Linked DNA regions of Homo sapiens: region 1 is linked to region 2. The links come from fine-mapping of genetic effects on gene expression. Tissue or cell type: lymphoblastoid cells. Region 2 holds a variant in brackets; the other region holds the start of a gene. All regions are shown on one strand. Distances are between the middles of the regions.

Region 1 (2,762 bases), 45 kb after region 2:
GTGATCTTATGAATCCCAGGACAGGAAGCCTAGTTCTGGGAGACGGGGAAAAAAACGCCTAGATAGGTACCGAAAAGAGGTTTCACTAAATGAAAAGAGGTACTTTTCCCCCCAAATTATTCCCTAACCACCTGAGCAGAAGAACAACCAAAACCTAAAACTTTTAATGACTTGAAACACTCTGAGGGGTGCTGGCAAGGACTGAGGGATCTTACCCAAAACCCTAAAGACAGAGGAATTAATTTCTCACCTGGAAGAAGCCACGTCCTGCCCTGTTCTGCTCTAGGATAAGGCTGAACCCTCCCAAGGTTAATAAAAAAGACAAGGAGAGTCAGCAAAGGATGGGTTACAGAGCCCTGGGACTACAGTAACAACTCATCGTTGGTGACACCGAGGTGACATGTTTAGTCAGTCGCACTATGAAGCAGGTGTCACAGGGACACCTGATCTCTCAGCTCTTGGGATAGGGAGGGAAAATGTTTAAGAAAGAGGGTGGGTGCAAGGCAAGGCTGAAAGGTACTAAGACACCTCACTGGACCCAAAGTCCCAGTCCTCTGCTTACCCGAATTTCTGGCCAAGCTCAGGGCTAGAAGGGGTGGCGTGGCTGGGGGGCAGGGAGGTTCTGAAGCGGGACTCCCAGGAACCTCTCCCGCTGGGCTAGCGGGTGAGACCGGGCGGTCCATCTGGAGAACATCGCTCCACTGAGGAGTGCCAACGGGTCCCTCCCAGAAGCGGTCAAGCAGATAGGCCGGGAGCTACTGGGGGAAAAGGGCAGTGTGCCGGGGCCACTCCTGCCCCGGGAAGCTGTGGACGCAGGCGGGGTGGGCTCACCTCCGAGGCAGCTCGCGCGGACTCCCCGGGGCAGGGCTGGGTCACCGGAGCCCCTGAGCTGCAGCTCCGGGCGCTGGACCTCAGAAGCCGCCGCAGCATCCGGGACAGTGGCCGCGCCGCCATGAAGCCTGATACGAGCGGAACCGCAGCCCGCTTCGGGAGCACACTGGCCGGGCACTCGCCCCCGGGGTCATCCCAGCAAGGGCGGGGAGGGGCAGGGGGAGGGCGGGACCCGCGCAGCCAATAGGCGAGGACGCAGTCCCGCGTGGCCTTGTGGGAGCTGTAGTACGCTCCCTGTGCCCACTTTCCTGGGCCGGGGTAGCGCTCTAGGGCAGAAGGGTAAACTCAGGTAAGGAACGGGGTTCTTTTCCTTCCAGTTTTTCTGGCTGCTCTAGTCTCAGATTTAGGTCGTGGTGTGACAGTAGGCAGGACAGGACAAGGGCCAAACGAATGAGGCACTGCCTTGGATGCAAAATTTAAGAGGGTGCCAGGTAAACTGCGGTTATCAAAGTAAGTAATTTTTTAATGTAATATTTCAAAAAATCGTAATAAATTTTCAGAAGTCCGTGAAATATCAACATTCTAAATAAAAAGATTTAGCCTACACTTGCATGACTCACATCACTCAGTGCACCATAGTGCAGATTGTGGTTGTAAAACGGTCAGTTAGGTCTTTCAAGATACACTTCTCCAGTTGTGCCCCAAAAGGATATTAACAATCTTTTTTTTTTTTTTTTTTTTCGTGGAGAAGGCAAGAGTATATGAGAAGTCACAGAATGAGTGGACAACATTTTTGAAATGCTTCTTATACACCAAGCACCATGCTAAATGTTATTTAAAACAATCCTGGTATGAATAGAATGTCCTTTTTGCAACTGAGGACATTGAGGCTTAGAGAGACCAGGTAATTTTCTCGAAGTCACACAGCTGATAGTGGGTTTCAAACCCAGGGCAATCTGCTTTCTACAGTCATTCAGTCAAGATTCAGTATGTGTTAGGAATGGTGGGGTGTGCCTCTTCCTCTCTATAAAAAGCAGAGTGCTGTAGTCCTTTAAGATTTTGGATAACACACACAATAATGAGCTTATGTACTAAGAATAATTATGCTCAAACCAGCCTGTTGTATCCAAAACCCTGTCCCTGTGGAATTGCAAGAATAAAACACCGGCTGGAACATACAGCTGCCAAGTGCATGCTTAGGAAGTGGGAATATAGCTCCTGATCTTGAAGAATTGACCGAATAGTGGGAGAGGAAAAAATAACTGAATATAACTGACTTTTACAAGTGCAGTGGGACTGTCAGAAAAGCTGAGATGATTTTAGCCTTAGATTCAATGTGAATTTCTCACAATGATACTCAAAATTCAGAAAATATATTGTAGGGGATGAAAGTGTATCTGGGGTGTGTTTGAAACTGATGAGACAAGTATGCCAGAGGTCTGTTTGCAAGGGGCCTGAAGACCAACTGAGGACTGTTCAAGCTCTGTCCACTGCTAAGTTTAGATATGTCTGGATTTATCAGGAAAACTGGGTATGGGGGAGAGAAGGATAAAAACTTTTTTTTTTTTTGTATGTATGAGGCTTGAAGAGCCTTCTAGAGAGGACTCAACCTCAGGGAAGAAGCCATCTGACATATGAACTTGATCCAAGAATGTCACCAGCTCCTTGGAGCCTCTCTAGATTCCACCCTCTTCATACAAGTTGTATGTGATCATCCCTTCACTTGGGCTTTACTGTCATCTTTTATAGAACTTGGGTCTCCAAGGCAAGACCTAAGGCTTACTCAGTTCTGTTTGAAGGCTGAAATCCTCTCCATATTATCATACATCTACTTGGACTCCTGTAGTGCTGGGAAACTTTCTGGCTTCCTGATGTTGTCTGGTCCACTTAAATGTTTCCCCACCTATTAAAGTTCTTACTTGTATTCAGCA
Region 2 (2,762 bases):
AGGCGCTGTCAGAAGACTGAGAGCGATTCTGTGTTCTGAGAATGAAGGCAGCAGGAAATTGCCCTCTTAGTGGCTTGCCGATAATCCTGTCCTCCCGTGGAGATGCTGTGCATTTTTTAAGCATGAGGAGGAGGAGAAGGATCAGGAACCCTTTGCCCTGTCCCTTTGGTCTACATTGAAGACATCTCTTTTACTCCCAAATGCCCCTATCAGCTCTGATGGATTATCAAGAGAACAGAGACCCTCACGTCTCTATTTTGACACTAAAATGCTCATTATCAAGTTTGTGGACTGAATCATACTAGTCTAATCTAAGAAGGCTTTGTAGAGGAGGTGAGGGGGGAATACTATTAAATATATTCCCAAGTCCTGTTAGGGAATGAGGGAAGGCGGAGGTGGTACCTTTTGGAGAAGAAGGTTTGAGGGCTGTCCTGGATTGAGGTGGGGTTTTGCCTTAGGTTGAAGCTTTCTAACGAGGAGATCCGGCAGGCCATCTTGAAGATGGATGAGCAGGAGGACCTTGCTAAGGACATGCTGGAGCAGGTGAGGACCCTCGTGGGAAGGAAGGGGAACTGAACCCAGCGGGCAGCCACGCCCCTTCCCAACAGCCCCCAGGAGGCTGCGATTCTTGGGTCAAGGAGAAATCAGGCTGGAAGAGTTAGGGAGAAGGTTTATAGAAGCCTCCCTGGGCCAGCCTTTCTTGGGGAAAGCTGGAAAAGGCTAAGTGTTCTCCAGGAGTCATTCTCCCATCTGACTCCAAGGCAAAGTCAGATGAGGAAAAGTGACATCTTCCCCAAATCTCTTCCCTCTCAGTTTTTTGGATCCTTTGGGAAACCTAGAAAACACACAAAGAAACATCATCAATTGGACTTCATTACAGTTAAGAACTTCTGTTCATCAAGGGCATGGTTACTGAGTGAAAAGAAGACAAACCTTAGAAGAAGATATTTGCTATACATACATATAACAAAGATCATATTCAGAACAAAGAACTCTACAAATCAATGAGAAAATGATGAAATCAACTTAAAAATGAGCAGAAGACTTGAAGGGGTGCTTCATGAAAGAGGATTTCCAAATAGACAATAAGAATATGAAAAGGTGTTCAATATGATTAGTTATCAGAGAAATACAGTCAACCACAATAAGGGGGCACCACACACCCACTAGAGTAGCTAAAATTAAAAAGACTGACAATGCCATGTGCTGACGAGGATGTGAAGCAATTGGAATTCTCATTTGGCACAATTATTTTGGAAAACTACTTGGAAGTACACTCTACAGCTAAACATATACCCGCCCTATTGCCTAGTAATCCCACTCTTAGGTATAACTCCAGGGAAATGAGTACAAATACTGACTAAAATAAATACACAAGAATAAAGTTGACCCTTAATAATGTGGGGGCTGGAGGCATTGACCCTCCATGCAGTCAAAAATCCACATATAACTTTTGACTTCCCAACAACTTAGCCGCTAATTGCCTACTGTTGACCAGAAGCCTTACTGATAAGATAAACAACCAATTAACACATATTTTTATGTTACATGTATTATATGCTGTATTTTTATAACACAGTAAGCTAAAGAAAAGAAAA[C/T]GTTATTAAGAAAATTATTAGAAGGAAGTCCGGGCACAGTGGCTCATGCCTGTAATCCCAGCACTTTGGGAGGCTGAGGTGGACAAATTACTTGAGGTCAGGAGTTCAAGCCCAGCCTGGCCAGTATGGTGAGACCCCATCTTTACTAAAAATACAAAAATTAGCCAGGTGTGATGGTGCATGCCTGTAGTCCCAGCTACTTGGGAGGCTGAGGCAGGAGAATCACTTGAACCCAGGAGGCGGAGGTTGCAGTGAGGTGAGATGGTGCCATTGCACTCCAGCCTGGGCAACAGAGTGAGACTCCATCAAAAAAAAAGAAAAAAAATCATTAAAAGACACTGTTCATTGAGTGGAGGTGGATCATCATAAAGGTCTTCATCCTCATTGTCTTCACGCTGAGGAGGAGGAAGAGGAATGGTTGGTCTTGCTGTCTCAGGGATGGCAGAGGCAGAAGAAAATCCACATACAAGTGGTCCTGCACAGTTCAACCCTGTGTTACTCAGGGGCCAACTCTATTTATAGCAACTTTATTTATAAATTCCCCGAACTGTGAACAACCCAACTGTCCATCAATAGGAAAGTGAATAAGTAGACTGTGGTATATTCATACAGTAGAATCCTACTCAGCAATAAATAAACTACCATGACATGGATGAACCTTAGACATTATGCTGGGGAGAAGTCAGACATAAAAGAGAGCATACAGCATGAGTTCAAGGACAGGCAAATCTGGCTAAGGTCCTAGAATTCAGTTGAGAGCCTATATTCACTTGAATGGCTTACTGAAGTGATGAAAAATAACTTTCCTGGGGGATGGAAATGTTCTCTATCTTAATCTGAATGATGATTCAATGGATGGAGATTTGACAAAAATCACTGAACTGCACATTTAAAATGGGTGCATTTTATTTTATGTAGACTATACCTCAAGTTTGTTTAAAAGAAAAGAAAAATCACTGAGCTGTACATTGAAGAATAGTGTACTTTAGGCTAGACGTGGTGGCTCCCACCTATAATCTCAGCACTTTTGGAGGCTGAAGTGAGAGGACTGCTTGAGCTCGGGAGGTAAAGACCAGCCAGGGCTACGTAGTGAGGTCCAGTCTTACAAAATAAAAAAATAAAAAAAATTAACCCAGTATGTGCTACATGCCTATATTCCCAGCT

Evidence for each region. PIP is the estimated chance that this variant, and not a neighbour inherited with it, causes the effect.
Region 1: MOCS1 starts here. The variant in region 2 is fine-mapped to the expression of MOCS1 in lymphoblastoid cells (GTEx, PIP above 0.99).

Annotation. Positions count from the first base shown.
Region 1 is chr6:39,933,464-39,936,225 of GRCh38, forward strand. MOCS1 (molybdenum cofactor synthesis 1) reads right to left here and starts at 999. Exons shown (of 11, transcript NM_001358530.2): 1 at 832-999. The coding sequence starts at 954. It overlaps LOC102723789 (a long non-coding RNA gene), which reads left to right and starts at 1,106. Exons shown (of 6, transcript XR_001744112.1): 1 at 1,106-1,180.
Region 2 is chr6:39,888,221-39,890,982 of GRCh38, forward strand. DAAM2 (dishevelled associated activator of morphogenesis 2) reads left to right here. Exons shown (of 25, transcript NM_001201427.2): 17 at 459-543. It overlaps DAAM2-AS1 (DAAM2 antisense RNA 1), which reads right to left. Exons shown (of 4, transcript NR_125831.1): 4 at 570-835. Among named protein-coding and RNA genes, the nearest start is that of DAAM2-AS1, 7.8 kb to the right of the region's middle. RefSeq lists an enhancer at 1-628. The variant C/T (reference allele first, on the strand shown) is at 1,599.